2 separate regions of the Homo sapiens genome follow, and region 1 is linked to region 2. Evidence: fine-mapped expression QTL. A gene starts in region 2. The other region holds a variant in brackets. All regions are shown on one strand. Distances are from middle to middle. Region 1 overlaps NHSL2 (NHS like 2). Region 2 holds the start of CITED1 (Cbp/p300 interacting transactivator with Glu/Asp rich carboxy-terminal domain 1).

Region 1 (10,384 bases), 170 kb after region 2:
TACCAGTGCTTCACAGACCCCCATGCCTGTGACACAATCCAGGCGGCAGCCCTGCAAGCAGCCGTATTGACCTGCTTTCTCTCTCTCTCACCTCTAAATCCTCAGAGTCCCTTGTTGGGCCCTCCCGTCCCCATATTCCTTTCAATGCCCCCAGCTGGAGTCACTTGTCCTGTGCCTGTAGCCTCAGTCCTGCCCAGGTTCTGGGACCAAGGACGAATTTCAGGAGTCAAGGCTAGTAGCTCAGTGACTCTGAATCAGGACAGCCTGGGGACTGATCCTGTTCTGGACTGGTGGTCTAGCTCCAATAATAAACTCTTCCCAGTTTTCTTGTCACTGAACCCCTGCCTTGTAACCCTGTCCAATAACTGGTCCCCATCTGGTTCCTCTTTTCCTAAGTTCCTGTTTTGATATGCTGCCTGGTGCCCCACTTCAACTCTTGATGGGATTTTTTTGATACAAGGAATTCTGTGAAGGGTTAAATGTCTCTGACTATAGACAGAGCTAAGAGAGAGCAGATGGAGCCACAATAGGCCAAGTGGTTGCTAGGAGACGAGGGGCCTCTCACTCGGCACCTGGTCCTCCTCTCCCCTCCCTTCCTCCACTTTACCCAACGATGTCAGTGAATTTGAGATGCGAGGCCCTGGACTGCGCTCACATATGTGGGTATCTGAACTTAGCCTCCAGGTGCAATTCTAATGGCTGCTTAAAGGTAGCAGTTTTTCTTATTTTTAATTTTTTTCTTTTTCTTTTACAATTAGGATTTCAATGTGGAATAGCAGGTTTTCTTTAAGTACAAAAAGGGAAGGCAATTGCAATTAGAATTAAGGAAATTGGTGCAGACCTGTGTATCACAGTAAATAAATCTTCAGTTGTGCGTGAAGCCACAAACACGTCATCATCATCCTCTGCAATCCATTCAGCTGTTTTATCACTGATTAAACTTTTTTCTTCGGTGCCTGGTTCCACAGAACTCCCTAGACATAAAAAACCAAAAGGAATGACTTTGACCACAGTAGATAGGACAAAGCACATTCTCATATGTTATTTCATTTGATGGTGAAAGCAACTCTGTGAGGGCAGCAGGGTGGAGATTTTTAATACCTCCATTTTGCAGAGGAGGAATATGAAGTTCAGAAGCTTAATGATTTGCCCAAGGTGGAGTGAGTGGTGAAGATCAGCGTGGGTCCCTATTCTGTCATGTCTTTGTCATTATAACAGGTGGCCCGAGCATTCTCTTGTTTTAAACACTGTATATCATTTCTCCAAATGAAGGAGCTGGGAGTGATCTAAACTAGTGACTCCCACCCAGTGGGTGAGAGTGGAACCTATTTGAATCTCAGAGGGGAGCCTGTGGAGTCTGAGGAAGTGTTTTCTACAACTACCTGGGGCTTTGATTTATTTACTTGACTTAGTCATAATTGACTCATATTGAAAGTCCAAATTTGCATATAGAAGGCCATGAGATTTTGATTTTTGGTGTTAAGGGTTCAGAAAAGAATGAGAAACATGGATGAACCCTGACAACATTAAGCTTAGTGGAATAAGCCAGTCACAAAAAGACAAATACTGTATGATTCCACTTATATGAGGTGTCTAGAGTCAAATTCATAGAGACAGAAAGTAGAATGGTGGTTGGAGGGAGGAATCTGCGGGGAGGGAGAAGGAGGAGTTGTTGTTTACTGGGTACAGAGTTTCAGTTTTGCAAGATGAAAGGAGTTCGGGAGATTGGTTGCTTAACAATGTGAATGTGCTTAACACGAATGAACTGCACACTTAAAAATGGTCAAGATGGTAAATGTTATGGGTACTTTACCACAATTAAAACAAAAAGAGACAGAAAAAGAAAGGATGAGAAGCATTATGTATTATGTTTATGGTTCCAGGAAGAGCCAAAGAACTCAAACCACCCAAGAAAGTGAGCTCCCTTTCCTCCGGAAGGCACAAAAAGAGGCTGCTGGTGGCAACATATTCCGTTGTTTCAGATGGCTCCGAGCCTGCCATGGCACTTGAACTCAGTCTGGTGGGGTACTGGGTCCCATGTAGGGAACTAAATTCACTGCAGCCAATGAAAAGTACTGTACAGTGAGGTGGAGTAGTTCCCAAGACAGGATGCATGCTTGGCTAGGGATGTGGGATGCTGAAGTCCTAGGGTGCTAGAACCTAGTTTGATTTCATTATCTCAGCACTAGAGATTTAGAGGGGAGAGTGGCCTAAACTGGGCCTTGGAGATCTGCCTCGGGCTAGTCTTGATCTCAAGGGCAGTAAGGCCAGCCCGTGGTTCCTATTTAGAGTAACTCAAACCCTCAAAGGGTGCCCGCTACTGACTTGGGATCAGGATAATTATTCTGGGGCATCTGCTTCCATCTCTGGCACTCCATTCTCACCCTCATCTCTCCTGTGACTGAAGGAAAAAGCCAGCAGACAGTTTACTAACCCAGAGGGCTTGCCTCCCTTTCACTGTCAGCCTGAGGAGTTGAAGTCACCCTTTGACCAAGTGATTGCAGGTCATCGCCGGTGGCGGGACACTTGGTGTCTTCCTCCAGGGTGATGATGGGGCTGAGAGGCAGCCTTGGTTCTGCCACATAGGCCTCCATTTGAGCTGTGGGAGAAGTGAGAGGCAGGTACAGCACGCTGGGTTTTTTTGGTACGGGAGGTGGAATCTTGCCTTTCTTTTTCTCAGCTTCTTCCTGGCTCTGGAGGCTAATTCTTTCAGGCAGAACCCTCACCTTGGGGCCCTCGTCCTCTACACTTCCCTGGGGAGGCTGCTGTGTTCCTGAGAAGAAAGCATCAGAGGAACTGGCAAAAGGCGTGAAAACAAGAGATGAGGGTGCTGTTGACTCCCCTGGGCTTCTGCCATCTGGGAAGCTGGAGGGCTTTGGTTTCCGCACTACCGTGTAGCTGTCTTGAGGGAGTGGTCTCGCATGTTGAATTGAGCTCCTGGGGGGCATAGCCAAGGTTGGTGAAGTTAGTGCATACTCCTCAGGAACAGATGGTGGCTTGTGGACCAAGCTTGGAGGCCTCCGGGCCACCGGAGGCTTCTCAGCTACGGGAGGTTTTGTCTTTCTCTCTGGCAAGGTGAAGACTTCTTCTGCTCTGGGTTCCTCGGCATACTCAGGGCTCTCAATATCATCTTCCGGCTCAGACTTGCTGACCGACCTCAGGCGAACAGAACGTAGGTCGGACTGAGTAACCATAGGCATGATTGGCTGGTTGGGATTAGTTTTCTGGGCCAGCTTGACGCCAAAATTTGTCTCTGAGTGGTGCCGACTCACCTTAGTTTTGCTTCGGATGGAGATACTCATCCCAGACAGATCCAGGTTGGGTGAAGAGGTCAGTGGTAGGTCAAATGATAGCCGTGACTTGGGAAATTTCTCCATTGGTGACGTCGGGGGTAGTGATGACTTCCTCTCAGGTACCACTGGACGTACCCGGACACTGCTGCTTGGAGGGGGTAAGTGGCCCAGGGTCAGGGACATGGAAACAGTGGGTGTTGGTGTTTCCGACTGGCTGGAGTAGCCACTGGAGGGTGACATCAGTCCAGGGGGCCTTCCCGGGGATGATATCTCCCTGGCCTCCACTTCAATGGAGAGTTGGGAAGGTGTAGTGGCTCTGGAGGTGGAAGGTGAGGCAAGAGACTCTGAGCTGCCCTGAACTTGGGTGCACTCAATGACTGTGGTGCCAGTGGCAGTGCTGGAGCTGGACAGGGATTGGTAGGTGTCACCAGACTTCCAGTCAGTAAGATACCAGTGGTGGGAGAATTGTGTACTTTCTGGATCTTTGTGGTTTGGAATAGCTGGGTGACCCTGAGCATCTGGGTGGGACGAGTGATGTCCTTGATGTTCCAAGGAGAGGCAAAGGCTCTTGGGCCTCTGGTCCTTGGGTAGTGCTGACCCACCTTCAGGCAAGAGGCCTGGCTCATCTTTGACCAGTGAGACACTGCGTGTGGGTGGGGAAGGCTTCTTTTTGGCCTTCCTAAGTGAGATACTCTTGGACCTCTGCCTTCTGTGCTGGGCCTCTTGCTGGGCACTAAGGGAGGCAATGTTGTCAGCACTGTTACTGCCCTCAGAGCTCGTACTGGCAAAAGGCAGGGCACAGGCCTCATTGGCCTTCTGCTCCTCATCATAGTCCACATCTGTGGTGCCTGAGTCTGTGGGCACAGACAGTGACCGCTCCCGGAATCTGCTGGCCCCACCGGGGCCTGTCTCCAGCCTCGAGGTCCCACTGGTCAGAAGGCCAATCTTGGAGGGTCTTTCGGGCATGTGCCTTTGCTGAATAAGGCGCTCAGGGTAGCCAGCTGACCCACTGCATCCTGCTGGGTTATCACGAGCGACAAGGAGGGTAGCAGCCTCCTTAGGAACCAGAGGTGGGACTTTGTTTAGAGAGACCCAAGAATTCCCACAGGAAGGATTTTTCCCATTTTCATTGACTTGATTGCTCTGGCTGGTGGCACTTGGAGTCATGTAGGTAAAAGCATCTCCCTTCCAGGAAGTGGAGAAGGTTGATTCTGTAGGTCCATTGCAAGAACTGGGGACACTGTACACCATTCCCATGCTCTCCATGCCAGGAGGGTTTGGGCCACTCCGTGCCTGGTGAGGTTCGTCCGGCTCACTGGAAGGAGTTCTCAGTACTGGCGAGGTGAGACTTGGGAACCGAGCATCCTGACCAACTGCAACTCTTCCATGAACCCCTTCTGGAACTGAGTGACTGGGCCTGATGTCGGAGGTGGTAGAGTGGGCCACACTGCCTGCTGGGCTGTTGCTGTGACCTGGAGGAAATAAACACAGGACATGAGTGCTACAGCAAGGGATCTCCCACCAGCTGTTTTGAGACAGGAGCACCAACTTTTTGCCAAGAAGCATTTGCCAACAGCTTGGTCAGAATTCCTTGGTTCTTCCCTTCCATGGATGAAGATGCTGGGGAAATTGGGTCCTTGCCCATCACCCCACAGTGAGACATACGGTGCCCTTGAATGGTCCAGATGGCTGCCAAATACTTTCCAGCTTTGATTATTCCTCTTAGAGCTGAAGTGTCACGTGGGATTACCTTGCATTTTCCCCATACTTTCACCCCAGGCTCATGAAACCATCACAGACCTCAGCATTCATCCATCTAGAGATGAGAGTAGAGGCTTCCGAACTAAGGACGGCATGGTGTGACGTTTGGCTCCAGCAATGACTCTGGAGCATGCCCAAGATGCAAAGCTAAGAGTCTGGTTGCATTGTTCGCACCCATCACTTTTAGGCTTTGCAACATAAGAGGCTGAGGATAATCTACGGATGTGAGGAAACCGTTTGGATGTTCCAAATCCCCAAAGGTTTTCTCATACACACAAACAATTAATACTGTCATGTCATTATTATTATTATTATAACTACTACTGCTATGAGAATTTGTAACAATAGCCACCATTTATTGGACACTGACTATGTACCAGGCACATGGTAGGCAAGTTACATACAATAACGCTAATCTTCATGCTAATTCCACCATGTCAGTATCATTATCCCCACTTTATAGATGAAGAAGCTGAGGCTCAGAGAGGTTATGTCACTTGGCCAAGGTCTCCTGGTTAGTAAGCGGAAAGACCAGGGCTCTTACCCTCTGCTATCTCCCTGGTCTGTGCTCCTGGCCAGCATTCACTTAATGGTAGTAATGGTTCTGTTAAGATGATGGTGAGGAACCCTCTCTCTTCATCTATTTGCCTAAATTTGGCATATCTGGTTGTATTACATTTATAATGGGAAACAATAATGTAATGGATTCATTAGCCCGGAAGACCTACTCTCCATATTCAGTTGCCACCCTTGACAAGAGGCCCTTAGCTATTCTTAATTACCATATTGGCTTTTTCAGGACATCCGGAGGCCCCCTCCTCCACCCAATTATTCCTGTTCCCCATCACCACAGTACCACCTGGGTGGCAGGATTGGCAGGAGTGGGTAAGGGGAAGGGACTGGGGAATCAGCTGTGGTGGGGTCACCTTGGTCTCGCTGGGAAAAGTTAGAGAATCCAATAATGGTCCGCCTCCGCCTCAGGGTGGACTTGGGGTTCACGGCTGTCTCTGTGTTAAACAACGAGTGTCGCAAACTTGCATGTTTATCAAACTGCTGCCCTGTAGCCAAAATAAAGACACTTGGGTGCATCCTGGTTTCTGTTTAAAGCACGGTGGAAATTGGCCTGAGAGAAGAGAATGATGGCAGTCGTGATAAGCATGAATAGCATCCAAGGCAGGTGGCACTTCTTCCTCATCCTTCCCAACTTGGCCCTGGGAATGCATGCTGGGTTTCCCAGGCTGCACCCAGGTTGCCTGTAAGTTTTAGGTGG[C/A]CTGGGGCAGTGGTTTTCAACCCTGGGCTACATATTAAACTCAACTGGGCAGCTTTTGAAACTGCAACACCTGGACCTTACCCCAGAACACTGAAATCTCTGGGAGTAGGGCTCAGGTAGAAGCATTTTCTAGAAGTCTTCAAGTGATTATTCAGAGGTACAGCCAGGGGTGAGAACCACTGGTGTAGAGCAGCGGACTGGGACTAGATGCTGCTTGACTGTGATCTTTTCTCAGAGAAGGCCTTTATATGGGCCAGGTGAGGCCAGTGTCTCCAAGAGGCTGCCCTACTGCCCTCCACCATCCAGGAAGATGCCTGATAGTCTGTCCTACAGTCACCTGGTCACATTTTACCAAAGCTGGCTCACAGCATGGTGATTGAGCTCTATTTCTTTCTCTTTCTCTCTCTCTCTTTTTTTCCTGGCACTGGCTTTTCAATTTAGGAAAATTATTGACACAGATTATAGTTATCACTTCATCTGAGTTACATGGTACTTTCAAAATATCTGTTAATTCAGTTTGTTTACTGACTTGATAATGTTTTCAAATTCAACACAATTAAAATGGAATATTTCCTCAATAATATGCCTTACTTAATATTATTAAAAAAATTTTTTAGAGCTGTATTTCTCTTAAAGTGCTAGGTCAGTCTTTGGGTGCTGGGAAATGGCTGGGTCAGAGTCAAGGCAAGGCAGGGTGGTGGGGCGAGGTCTGTGATTCCCCCTCCCTTTCTCTCATTCAGCCAGCCACACAGCTGCACACGTTCACAGACACCTCAGCAAGTGGCTCTGTGGGCAATGCTCAGGGACAGCCTCATTGAGAGGAAGACAGACATTTATTTATTTATTTAGAGACAAAGTCTCACTGTCACCCAGGCTGGAGTGCAGTGGTGTGATCTCGGCTCACTGCAATCTCTGACTCCTGGGGTCAAGCAATCCTCACATCTCAGCCTCCCGAGTAGCTAGGGCCACAGGTGTGCGCCACCACGCCTGGCTATTTTTTTGTATTTTTGGTAGAGATGGGGTTTCACCATGTTGCCCAAGCTGGTCTTGAATTCCTGAGCTCAAAGGATCCACCCACCTCAGCCTCCCAAAGTGCTGGAATTACAGGCGTGAGCCACTGTGCCTGGCCAAGATAGACATTTAGACACAAAATGTTCAACATCACTTCTGGAGTCTTTCCTCATCAGCCCTCACTCCTTTTGGTATATTTCCCTAGGCTGTGGGCTGTATTTCCTGCCTCTGATTTTCTGAAATGATGCCAGTGACAGTGGAGGACCCCATATCCAGGGAGCATTGCCACATGTGGCCAGAGCTGTCCTCATCATCTTCATCAACATTTCCCAGCAGAGCACAGGCTGGCGCTGGCTCACAGGACCCCTCTGATCCCTTTAGGTTACTGAGATCATGGTTTCATCATGTCGCTGGCCCTATCTCCTTCTCAAATGACTGGCCCTCCTTCTCTTCCCCTTACAGCTGATGGAGTGTAGATCATGGATTAATAGTGAGCATGGTATAGTGTGCCACATGCCCCCAGAGCCACAGCCAGCTGGGCTACATATAATACAGCACGTTCCCCACTCTTAAAATTGTACTGGGTCCCCTTTTGGTCTTTTTGGCCTTAGGACCTTTCTACCACTTCTTTTCTTGAAAACTTGCCAAACAAGTTGAAGAAGCCCACCTTGCTAGAAGACTAGTGTCCAGTGAAAGTGCTACCAGGCCTTTGGTCTGTGCCCAGGTGTACTCCTCCCTTGTTACCACCAGCACTCCAAACCCCACTCTCCTGCTCCGACTCTTATCAGTGTACTCCAAACCCAGCTCTGGGCACAAGAAGTTGTCTTGCCCTGACCCAAACAGAACTCACAAACTTTAAGTTTCCATAAGTGCTCTGAAGAGCACAGAAGTTCATAAGGCTTTGGAGCTTTCTGTTAAGAAAATTTTGCTTGCTATCAAATGGTCTCAGTTAGGGTGGCAGTGCCAGGAGGGGGTGAAGAAAGAGCAGCCAGCGCCCCCTCTTCTGCATGCCTCCGTTCCCTGGCAAGAGCCATGACCGTGACAGCGCAAGGTGAGCCGGTAGCAAAGAAAGTCTCACTTCCCTCCCCCAATACCCAGTGCATCAAAGAGGATGGTCTGTAGAGGCATGAAGGGAAGAAGACAAAGGCGGTGCTAAGCAACTCTACCAGAGATGTTGATGGGCACAATGTCAGACTGCGTGGAGCAAAGCTGAGGCCACCGCTTCTCCTCTAGGATGGGCAGAGGGAAAAGGCTATTCCAGGCAGTTTGCTTGTCGGCTGTGGTAGACAGGCTCAGGGAGGCCTCGGGGGCCCTCACACCCTGGGTGGTAGTCTCATCCTCGCTCAGCTGCCGTTTTGTAGGCTGTTGGGAGAGAAGGTGATGGAAAGGGTGTATTCCTGCCTGGCAATGAGCCAGTGCCCATAGGGTGGCTGTTTAGGCTGGGTAGTTGGAGGCTTCGTCTGGGAGGCAGGAAAGCGTGGACAGGCCACCAGGCCAGGCACCTGCTGTGCAGGGCCTATCCCAGTGGGGCCTCAGGGTAGCTCTGCTGGTGAGCAGGGCTGAGCAGCTTCCAGTGGGTAAAGTAAGCAGCTGGAGGTCTCTTGTCAGTGGGTGCATGCTGGCTCTCCCAGGTGGGGGATGAGGCAACTCACCATCAATATAAACTCCAGACGCCTGGCAGACTGGGGCCTTGGGTTGGGGGTGGGCTTAGTGGCCTCATCAGAAGAGCGGAAGGTCTGCCCCACAAGTCTGGCCTCCGAGTACTGTTCCTCATATTCTTCTGAAAAATAGCACAGTGGAGACACACACTCTAGGGTGCCATGGCCGAGCGCTGGGCCGGGGAAGGGCCATGAGCCAGGACTCCTGCTCTAGCTGCCAGGCCTGACTTGCATTTTCTTTAGGCTATTTCCAGGTGTTTGAGCCACTGGATTTGGAAATGGAAAAGTGCTTGCTTCCCAGGACCATGAGGATCGAGGAGAAGAGAAAGTCAATAAATTCATGCTGTGGTGGTTTGGGGACCAAGCCCTTATCTCAATGATCCCCACCTTGAGTGCTCAGTTACGAAAAGAGGCTCAGAATGCAGACACCTTTTGCTACTTTGGACTGCAAGTTCCTCTCTTTGAAGCCCTGCAGCTCTTAAGGTTTTCTGCGACCCTACCAAGGAAATGACCTGTGTGAAGCAAGAAGAGATTTACACCAGGAAGTCCAATCTGGAGTTCTTTCTTGGATGTCAAGAACTTTTACTTGAGCCTTTGTGGGCCGTGTTCCCTGCACCTTAGTCCCGCTGTAAGTGATGTCAGGTCTAGGAGGGCTAAGGTGAAGGAGAGGGAAGGAGGAGGTAACAGCATAAAAGAGGCAGAAGTTCAGCGGCATCATCAGTGAGTAAGGATGCACAAGATTTGAATAGGGTTGATTGAAGTGATGAATTTGATGAGAATACATGAAGAAAGTGAGAGTAGAGAAGGGACATTCATGCTGTATGTACACTGAACAAAGACTCAGAATCACAGAGATTTGGGGTTGCTCTTGGGGTTCTTTGGTCCAACGCCTCATTCTGTGCCCAGACTCCCTCCTCAGCAGCCCTTCTAGGTGTTTCTTCAGCCTCAGCGCACACACCTGCAGGGAAGGGGAGCTCCCTCCCTCCCAAGGCAGCTCATTTCTTCCACGGACAGTTGGGGCTGTCAGGTGTGTCAGAAAGTTCTTCCTTATCTGGAGGTGGAATGTGCCTCCTTCTGGGTTTCCACCCACTGGTCCTAATTCTGCCATGGTAGCAACACAGAGCACATCGACTCTTTTTCTGTGTGGCAAGTCCTTTGTTATCTGAACACAAGGCTCATGGTGTCCCTTGGCATCTTGCTTTTCCAAGGTCACCACTGCCCTGGTAGGGGGTGGGGGTTATGGCTGTCATCCTGTTGGTGGCCCATCAGCAGTTTTCTATTCGCCATTAGAGTTAACCTTTATTAGTATAGATAAAGGAGTGCTGACAAGACCTCTTTTCATGCTCAACATCCACTGAGCACCTCTTGGCAGGTGGGGAGGGAATCCAGCC
Region 2 (10,384 bases):
TATAAAATGGAGATAACTGACCCCACAGGGGTAGCATAAGATTAAAAGAGATAATGTATATGAAAAATAGTTGTAAAAAATTTATTATGGAAATTAAAAAACATATACATGAGTAAAGAACACATTATAGGCCAGCGCGGTGGCTCACACTTGTAATCGCAGCACTTTGGGCAGCCGAGGCAGACTGATCACTGGAGCTCAGGAGTTCAAGAACTGGGCAACATCATGAAACCCCATCTCTACAAAAAAAAATACAAAAAATGCAAAAACACAAACAATTAGCTGGGCATGGTGGCACGCGCATGTAGTCCCAGCTACTCTGGAGGCTAAGGTGGGAGAATTGTTTGAGCCCAGGAGGTGGAGGTGGCAGTGAGCCAAGATCGCGCCTCTACACTCCAGCCTGGGTGCCAGAGTGAGACCCTGTCTCAAAACAAACAAACAAATAAACAAAAACACATTATAATGAAGCCATCTTCAACAATTATCATCTTATTTAATCTATATCCCCTGTCCACTTTCCCCCCACCCTCAACTGGAATGTTTTAAAGCAAATCCCAGACATGCTCTTTTTTCCATAAAAACTTCATTACCGAAGTACTTTACACTTTTTAAAAAAATTAATACATGATGACTGTAGAAAATTTGGCATATGAAGAAATCATGTATGAAAGAGAAAACAAAAATCACTAATAAACTCACCACCCAGAGACTACTACATTTTGGAGTAGTTTATTATTTTTTTCTATATACATATTCGTTTTTAACAAAAGTGGGATCATATTGTATATGTTATTTTTAGGTACATTTTATTTTAATTGTAAAAATAATAAAAGCAGATTACAGAAAATAGAGAGGAAATTACCCATAATTCCTTACCACCTAATATAAAACTCTTAATATTTTAGTATTCTTCCTTCTCATTTTTTTCAATTTACATTCATACTCTTAACCCAAGTGGGATCCCTCTGATTATGTACTTTTCAAATTATGAATCTGTTTTAATTGTAAGAAAGTAATATAATCATACTGCAGAAAAAGAAAAGCAAAATAAAAATATTATCCATAATCCCACTACTCAATTATAATCACCGTTAACAATTTTTGGTGTTAACAGTGATTATAATTGAGTAGTGAGATTATGGATATTTTTTCTATGCACATATATTTTAACAAAAGTGGGAACATAATATTTATGGAGTTTATTAACTATAAACTCATATTTACTTATAAGAATAATATTGCATAATATGGGGAAAAGAGAAGAAAATCACTCATAATCCTACCACTCTACTGGCACTGTTATCATTTTGGTATTTTCCAGACTGTCGCTTTCTGTACATATTCATACATGATTGGAAACATAGTGAGTATTTAATTTTGTTCCCTTTGTGCCCTTTGCAGCTTGGCATCATATTTATGCAACTTTGTACCCAGCATTTTTTATTTCATATTTTGTTATGAATATTTTCCTATGAATAAGAGTTTTCAAAGTCAGGATTGTGTGTGTGTGTGTGTGTGTGTGTGTGTGTGTGTCAAGGTACCAAGGGACACACCCTTACCATAGACATTTAGGTTCCTTTTCATTTTCCACTATTATCAACAATTCTGCTGTAAATATTCTTGAATAAAAACTTGTGCTTTTAAAGTTTTTTCTACACACGTATTGAGTATATGTTTCTGGAGACCACTCTGTAAGTTTATAGGCTGACCTGTAAAAAGTGGTCACCTTTTTTTGGTCCCAAATTTACTCCTGTCATATGGCTCAGGCAGTCCTTGGTTCTGGAGGGTGGGATTTTAAGAAGAAATCTGCATTTTTCTCTCTCTCTCTCCTCCCTGAGTTTATAGACCTCCTTCATCCCCTCTCAGTCTGGTTTTAAAATTAATCATTCAGCAAGTATTACTGAATCTGAAGTGTGTGAGCTGAGGCAGGGACGGGAGGCAAAAGGAAAATAATCAGAAGGTCCAGTACGATAACAGCATTTATTGGCCATTTACTACACTGCGGGCACCAATCAGGCTAAGCAACCCCCACAGATTAGGTACCATTGTTATCCCCATTTAACAGATGGGAAAATTGAAGACCAAAGCATGAAGCCATTGGCCTAAGACTTCACCGCTAACAAATGGCAAAGTAGGAATTTAAACCCAGGCCTACTGACCCCTGAACCTGCACTCTAGACAGCCTCCTTACCCTCCTAGGCAGCGGGGATTAGGGCTGAGGGTAAAAACTTTGCAGACAGCCTGATCCAGATTCAAACACTCAGCCACGTGGCTATGTGAACTTGGGCAATTTCCCGAGGCTCTGTTTCATTCACCTTTGGTAAACCCTACCTCAAAGGGCTGTCCTGGGAATTAAATGAGATGATGGATGGGGAACATGCCAGGCCCAGCGCTGGAGCACAGAGGTTCTCGGTAGGTGACCATCCCTGTCCTCTCCTTGCTTCGCAAGCTCGCGGTCTAGTTGCCAAGTTGGAGATAAGAGTTCAGCGGAGAGCTCTGAGCTCTGCTGGAGCCAACGGGGAAGTCAGTGATCAGAGCATTTTTGCCGAGAAATGCAAATGTCTCCTTTGCTCCCTCTCAGCCTCTGCAACTAACCTCCTCTCCCATCTCCCCAAAAAGGAAAGGGGTGGCTTTTGTGCTTCAAAGCTGAGTGCTTGAAGCCCCTCTCGTTCCTGCTCCCCAGGAGGTAAGCAGTGGAGATGACAGGAAGTCACCAGGGGGGAGACCCTTTCTGGCATGTGGGCACAGAGAAATGTGGTGGAGGGCGCTCCTTTTTCTGCCCTTCAATGGTCCGGATGGGGGAGGGGGCTGGCTGTTGAGCAACTGCTCCGGAGACACTCCAGAAGCCGAGATGAACATATGCCTCTTTCTAACAATTGGCCTGGGAGCCATCCAATAGATGGAGGGCGGATCCACACCTCCCGGATCCGGAGCCTGCAGCGGAGAAGCTGCCGCTGTTGCCAGACCTGCTCCCGAGCCAAGCCGGGGCTGACGGGGAGGGTGGGTCAGGGGTTCAAATTAGTAACATGCAATTCGAAAGCCTAGAGTCGCTCATTCTCCACCACTTAGTTTTCGCAGAAACATTTTTTTTCATCCCAGGCAAACACCAAGAGAACTTGAGAGTGTATTTCACACGCGGTTTGCAGTAAGGCTTTAGGGTGCCGACAGATCCCGCCTTTTATCAGAGGGAGACTAGGCAGGGCCCACAATCTGGCAAGCAAAGTGAGAAAGTGCAGCGAAGATGTGTGGGGTGTGGATGCTACCGGGGTTTGTGTTGGGACAGGGTAAGTGAAAAGACTGGAGCTGTGCAAGGCAGCCTTGAGGGCTGGAGAATGGGTTTACCTGGCGACCAAGACACTCGCCCAAGCTTCCTCCAGATGCCGAGGAAGGGCCTTGATCCGTCTCTCCATTTGCTTCCCATCTTTGTGTCGGTAAGCCGGTCAGTCCGTCAACAAACAGAACTTTGTTAGAAGAGCAAATGCAGGGCACTTGGGGCTACTAAAAAAAGAAAAAGAAAAGAAAAAGAGAACTTCAGGTCTTCAAATCCAATTAAGAAGACAGAACACATACATAGTGAAAATGACTTCGTGACATTCCCTCCCCCCCTTTTTTAACATCAGGACCTTTTCTTAAAGAGTATGTTTTATAAACAGTGTAAACTGAGTCGCTGTTGCTGAAAGGCAGCAAAAAAAGAGCGGCGGGGCCGGGGCGGGGTGGGGGGGTGACAGAGGGGTAATCCCGATGGCCTCCCTGTAAGTGGTAAGGTGGGAATTTCTTGGCCACAAAGAATCCGAATTGAGGTGAAGGAGAAGACCCAGACCTCTTTCCAGTAAGGATTTGTAAGACAACATCTCTACCTAAGAAAGACGAACTCCAAATGCAAAACGTTATTCTTGCTAGACGGGAATGATTATGTAGTTACAATAAAACAACCTGACATCGTGGGAAGGCAGGAGGAATCTCCGCGAACCCTGGGGCAAGCTCTTCGTACCCCGTTGCCTACTGTTGGCTTTTCGGCGAGCCTAGTGAGCTGTACCTGGCCCCACGGTCCGGGAGAGTAGCATTTCTCCGGGTCGCATCCTGCCAGCCTCCTGCCCTGGATGACCACAGAACAGAAACCCTCGAACCCAACCCCAGCTCAGAACTTCTAGAAGAGCCACCGCTGCCATATAGGCCCCCCATGCGACTCTGCCCAGAATCTGGCGACTTTAAGAGGAAAAGGAGCCCCCAGCCTCAGCTCTTCAACGAATGAGATAGTACAGCCCCCCCAAAAGGCAGACAGGCTCCAAGACAGCCCTGCAGAAAACTAATGACCATTCCCCCGTCTCGTGTGCGCCCCGCTCTTCCAGGTCACTCCTTGAGCCCACAGCTCTCTCCCAAAACCCCTGAAGCCCGTTTTGGCCCCCGACTAGATTTAGGTCAGAAAACAGACACTAACGGCTCTCCTTTGCCTCAGTGAAATTACTAAGTGGAATTTATTGGGCAAGTCCACGCAGGGCGGTGGGGAGAGCCGGTGTCCCGGGCCCTGGCCCCCGACAGCTTTAGAAGCCGGGCACTGGCCAGGGCTCCGGGCGAGGGCTGCCCATAGCCCGGACTCGCCAGCCCCACCCCGGGAGCCTTGGCCGGTCCACAGGGCTGCCGGACTCGCGTGGCCGCGTGGACTCCGTTCCCCAGCCGGCCCTTTGCTTTCACACGATCCGCGGTGACTGCACCAGCTCGAGCGCCTTTAAAGGGCCACAGACGCCAGCCGCTGCTATAAAAATGTGCCCGGCGGCAAAGCTGCAGAAGGGGCACCGCTGAGCTGCCGAGAGGAAGCTCGCTCTGCCCGGCTGCCCTCTTGTAGTCCGCCGGCGAGGGGCAGTTCTCGGTGAGGAGGAAGAGAGCAGCGGACGGCACAGCACCCGCGCGGGCCCTCCGTGAGTATCCAGTTCAGATTTTGCCACCAACTCGCCCACGAGCCAGGACATGTGCTAATAATGCCCTAAGCCGGTTATAAAGACGTGGAAATTGAGGGGAGAAAAAAAAAGGGAAAAAAAGGGTCTGTCCTTCCTGGGATTCCTAGCCGAGGCCAGTCTGCTGCCGTGTGCGTGTGCGTCAGGGCTCTCCGGGCGGCAATGGGGGCTTGAGAGCCGGGTCCCCAGCGCCGGGAAGGGAGCGCGGTGGCCGCCACCGCCACCGCCCCGGAGTCCGGCGCCGAAGCTGCGGGCGGGCGGGCGGGCACCAGCTCGGTCAGGGGCTGCTTGGCGCGGCACTGTGCGGTGCAGCGGCGGCGCGGCGCGGTGCGGGCTTTTCCCAGGCGCCCCGGGGTCGGGTGGCCAACGGCGCGGCCGCGGGCGCTGAGCGCGACCGGTTCGCGGTAGCGGTGGCGGCGGCGTGCGTGCCAGGGGCTGGGGGCTCCGCCGCCTCTCTTGCGGCTCACCGAGCTCCGCGCTTCCCTCTCTCCAGGGCAGGCGGCTTCTCAGAGGTAAGCCGGGCCGCCGGGCTGGGCGCCGGGCTGGGCGGCGGGGCCGAGGACTCCCGTGGAGCGGGTATGGGGAGTGGGCGGCCGCCAGGCGGGCCGGAGGGTTCTGGGGAGACTTGCTTTCTGTTGGAAAGCTGCTCTGCTGGGGGCGAGGGGCCGCCCGCCCGCCCGCCCGCCAGCGCTCGGGTTCGCTTGCCAGCGCGCCCCCCTGCCGGCCAGCGGGGCCGGGTGCCCGCTTCTCCCGGGGAGACGGCAGCACCTTTTCTCCCTGCGCCCGCGCTTTCTCCAGCTTGGCTTCCACCGACTTTGCTAATCTCCCGGACCGCATCTGGACGCTCTGGCTCCGGAGCTGCACAAAGCTCAGATTTACTTCGGGGAATTGAGGCAAGAGGGGGCTTTTCGGGCCGAGTTCAGCGGAATTGCGGGATGGAAGTTAGCGAATTTGGGCAACTTGCCTCTACTGCCCAGTCGACCTCAGCCCTCCCCTCCCCCGACACACGCCCACACACACACACCCACGCGCACACCCCTCTCCCTATAAACGCGGGCTGGCGAGCCGCGCGCCGAGTCCCTGCTTCGCAGAGCACCGGACTTGGAGTCAGAGAGACCTGGCTGCGAATCCCGGCTCCGCCACTTTCTAGCGCTGTGACCTTGGGCAAGTTACCGCACCTCTCCGAGCCTCTCTCACTCTTCTCCTAGCGGGGTTTTAGCACTGACCGCAGGCGGCTTGGCTAGGGGGTAGGCTCAGCCTGCTGCCGCGTCGGATGCTCAGCGGGCGCTCAGTAAGTGTTGATCAGGCGCGAGAGTGGCAGCAGCCGGCGCCGGAGTGCGGACTCGCCGCGGAGGCCGACACCCCGTGCCCCTTCCTGCCTGTCCATCCTGTCTCTAAGATCAGTTCCTGATACAGCACTTGCGGGAACGGACGCTCAGGGCCCCGGTGGCCTGGGTGCACGCGCCCGCCGTGCAAGGGATGCTCCCGGCCGCCCCCGGTTCCGCGGCTCCATCTGGGATGCGGCGAGGAGGGCAGCCGAGCTGTCCGCAAACAACGGGCCTTTAGTTTTCAGGTGGCGAAACTGACTGGTCTGGTTAGAGCGCGTCCAAGCCAAGCCGCAGTGCTGTTTGGATTTTTAAATTTCTCCTTCTGAGTGAGAAAATAGCAATCGAGATGGAACCATCCGGTTGGTGCCATTTTAACTTTTGGTCCCCCAACAGGTTAAAGATGAGGCCCCCACCTGCCTCTCCCTTCTCTTTTCCCTCTCCCCTTCCCACCCCTGTCTAGGCGGGAGGGGGCTGCTCGCCCAAGGGAAGGCCTGAAGCGAAGAGCGGGCAGCGGGACTGGGAACTGGTGGCCGGGGGGCCGCCAGGCATCAGCCGGCGAGAAGGCACTTGTTGCTCTAGGTTTCCCAGCCGCCTGTCGCAGCCGTTTCGCAGTGGTCAGCTCGCGGCTTGGAGAGCGGGCTGGGACGTTTCCGCGTTGCCAAGTTTTGCCCACGAACGGGCTAGAGGGTGGTGGAGGAGGGCAGAAAGCCGGGGAAGCAGAGCCAGGGATGCCGATGGAAATGCGATTGCTTCTTCAGACGCATTCAACAACACTTACTGAGCGCCTATTGAGCGCAGACCCAGGCTGGGGTCAGGGTGGGTGGTGGGTCAGTAATGGAAGGCAGAAGATCTGAATGGACACAGGGCCTCTTCTGGGGGAGCTCCCAGATTGAAGAGGGAGGCGCGGTAAAATGGTCTTCCCCCACGAACTGATATCAGAATAGAGAGAGTTTTTTTGCTCGTTCTCTCTTTTGATTTTTCTAATGTTTCTCTTTTGGTTTTGCTGTTGTTGCTGCTGCTCCTGTTGTTTTTTCTTCGTTTTGTACATTCGGGTACCAAGCGGCAAAAAGGAGAGGGAAGGCTGGATAGGAACAGGAAAAGATGGACAGGGCCCCCAGACATTTTTCTTAGGACAGGAAAATTGTCTGATACTGATTGTGCTAGGGCTCTTGAAGACGACATGTGTTAGACTTCTTGTCTGGTGATCACTTGCTTTTGAAATATTTTTCTACGGTTGCCTCAGAGAAGGAGCAGGGCTTCAATCAAGCAATGATGCGGGACCCAACAGCTGATATTTTTTCCTCATGTTTTTAAAAAAATGTTTACCCCTTTCTCTATTTTTTCCCTCCCCTACCCCCATCCACCCAAGTAAGCAATGCAAAGATGATACAGAGAGGTAGTAAGTGGCCACTTTCTAGAAGTGTCTGAGCAGATTCTTAATGACCGCTGCGGAGTGGAGAGTGTCACGGAGAATTCTAGCCTCCTTGGAAAGATTAGAGACTCTTTTTAAGGTCCTCAAGATTCTTTGGACCAAGAGGTATTTATAAATATGAAATTCTACATCTCTAATTGATCATGAAAGCTAGAATATATGGGGCTTTTTTTTTTTAAAGAGATAGGGTCCCGCTATGTTGCCCAGCCTGGTATCAAACTCCAGGGCTCAGGTGATCCTCCCACCTCAGCTTCCTGAGTAGCTGAGACTACAGGAGGGTGCTACTGTGCCTAGCTATGGGACATTTTTTTCTTCTTTGTAAACAGGCCTCCAGGAAAATAAGTTGAGATTTTCAGAGGTTTGTTTATTTTCTGGTTTGGAGGTATTCTTTTGCCTTCATTCCCTTATCCTTTGGCACTTGAGCCAGGAAATCACTTCTTTGGAAGCCTTTTGAATCCAGCTAGGTATGATGACTTAGCCAGTGGTCAGGTGAGGCATGTGGCCATAGGGGTGCTAGATTCTGCTCCCAGAACCGCTGCTACCTGACTAAAAAGGCATTGAATCTCTGTGCCTCACTTGTCACTATAGATGGGAATGGCTGGACTCAGGTTTCTGGGGTAGGCATCCTAGGAAAGCCCAATGCTGGGGCTGTCTTGGAGGGGGCTTGAGACATGGAGGAAAGTGACACATTCCTAGCTTCTCTGGCTCCAGCTGCCTCAGAGCCCCCAGACCACCCTAATCAGCCTGGCTTCTCACAGGCATGCCCAAGGTCATGCTTTGGAGCTCCATGACATTTGCGCTAGAGACTTGTTATTTCCCTGTGCTGCAGCCTCTAGCTTTCTAGGTCTTCCTTGCCCTGACTTCTTCTCACATTCTCCCAGTCCCAGTGGAGGCCCCAACTCTCCAGCCTGGATGCTAGTAGCCCATTGAGACAATATGTTGCTTACTCAGGGACATTCCTGTCCTCTGAACCAGGAACAGTGCCACCCTCACCCCCACACATACACCTTGGGACTGTGAAGTCACTTGCATGAGGAAGCAGTATGTCCCATCTTGGTGATATGGGTAGGTGGCTGCCTGGGCAGTACCTGGCCGAATCAAGCACCTTTCCTGCCTCAGGCAAAAGTTCCAGCTTGATCTCCTCCCTGTGCTCGGGTGATCTCTGGTCTTGATTCTAACTCAGTCACCATCCTTGCCTCATAGCTGCGTGGCATTGCCCTGCTTTGGGCTTTGCTAGTGCTTTGTTGGTCAGTGAAGCCTTTTGCCCTTACCACTGCTTCTTCCTCACTTGCAGCACAACAGCTCCAGCTGGCAGCATCACTTCCCGCCAATTTATCCAACTTCTGCCAAGGCTCTGAAATGCCAACAACGTCGAGGCCTGCACTTGATGTCAAGGGTGGCACCTCACCTGCGAAGGAGGTAATTTTTGCCATTTTACAGATGAGGCAGGGAAAGACAAATTTTCCGGGGTCATGGGCCAGGCCCTCCTAGGTGCATTACCCAGTGTCCTTGAGCAGAGAGGAGACAACAGGACTATCTCTGGGGAGAATGAGAACAGCTTCTGCCTAAATTGTGGTCAGATTGAACCCACTAGGGGTGTTGAAAGATGGCAGGGAAGGGAGCAGAGAAATTGAGTAGGAGCAAAACCACTCTGTTGAAGAGACTAAAGTGAGGCTGAGAAGAGGGACAGGAGGTGCCCTTTTTAGGATGGTGAGGTGGAGGCTATGGGGAAGGAGCTGAAAGCAGTGAACCCACTTAGGATGGCAGGTGCTCCAGCACTGTAACTGGGCTCTGGCCTCAGTGCTCAGAGCCATGGCAGCAAAAGGATGCTTGAGGTGGGAGCCTAATTTTCAAGGGGGTCGTCTTGCTACCTCTCCACCTCTAGTCCCAAATGAAGTGCAGGTAGGAACCTTCTAAATCTGCTGAATGGTGAAGGACAAGCCAGGAGCAGGGTTACTATGGTGTGCTTTTCTCTGTCTTCTAGGATGCCAACCAAGAGATGAGCTCCGTGGCCTACTCCAACCTTGCGGTGAAAGATCGCAAAGCAGTGGCCATTCTGCACTACCCTGGGGTAGCCTCAAATGGAACCAAGGCCAGTGGGGCTCCCACTAGTTCCTCGGGATCTCCAATAGGCTCTCCTACAACCACCCCTCCCACTAAACCCCCATCCTTCAACCTGCACCCCGCCCCTCACTTGCTGGCTAGTATGCACCTGCAGAAACTTAATAGCCAGTATCAGGGGATGGCTGCTGCCACTCCAGGCCAACCCGGGGAGGCAGGACCCCTGCAAAACTGGGACTTTGGGGCCCAGGCGGGAGGGGCAGAATCACTCTCTCCTTCTGCTGGTGCCCAGAGCCCTGCTATCATCGATTCGGACCCAGTGGATGAGGAAGTGCTGATGTCGCTGGTGGTGGAACTGGGGTTGGACCGAGCCAATGAGCTTCCGGAGCTGTGGCTGGGGCAGAATGAGTTTGACTTCACTGCGGACTTTCCATCTAGCTGCTAATGCCAAGTGTCCCTAAAGATGGAGGAATAAAGCCACCAATTCTGTTGTAAATAAAAATAAAGTTACTTACAAAGAGACGGGCCAACTAGAGGTGTTCTTCATTGAGATCTAATGATGTGTAGTATGGTCTGATGTCCCTTTAGCAATTCTGAGGCCCATGGCGGGG

The links.
Region 1: its variant is fine-mapped to the expression of CITED1 in testis (GTEx, PIP 0.94).

What each region holds. Positions count from the first base shown.
Region 1 is chrX:72,132,822-72,143,205 of GRCh38, reverse strand. NHSL2 (NHS like 2) reads right to left here. Exons shown (of 8, transcript NM_001013627.3): 3 at 8,988-9,115; 4 at 8,502-8,697; 5 at 5,981-6,112; 6 at 2,435-4,765; 7 at 842-974. Among named protein-coding and RNA genes, the nearest start is that of RTL5, 6.1 kb to the right of the region's middle. RefSeq lists an enhancer at 1,247-1,296. The variant C/A (reference allele first, on the strand shown) is at 6,325.
Region 2 is chrX:72,301,557-72,311,940 of GRCh38, reverse strand. CITED1 (Cbp/p300 interacting transactivator with Glu/Asp rich carboxy-terminal domain 1) reads left to right here and starts at 6,027. Exons shown (of 3, transcript NM_001144887.2): 1 at 6,027-6,116; 2 at 9,007-9,131; 3 at 9,697-10,295. The coding sequence starts at 9,072. The coding sequence ends at 10,218. LOC105373250 (a long non-coding RNA gene) reads right to left here and starts at 5,839. Exons shown (of 3, transcript XR_938441.2): 1 at 5,721-5,839; 2 at 3,343-3,498; 3 at 200-239. RefSeq lists enhancers at 2,778-2,827, 2,554-3,055, 4,972-5,021 and a silencer at 4,748-5,042.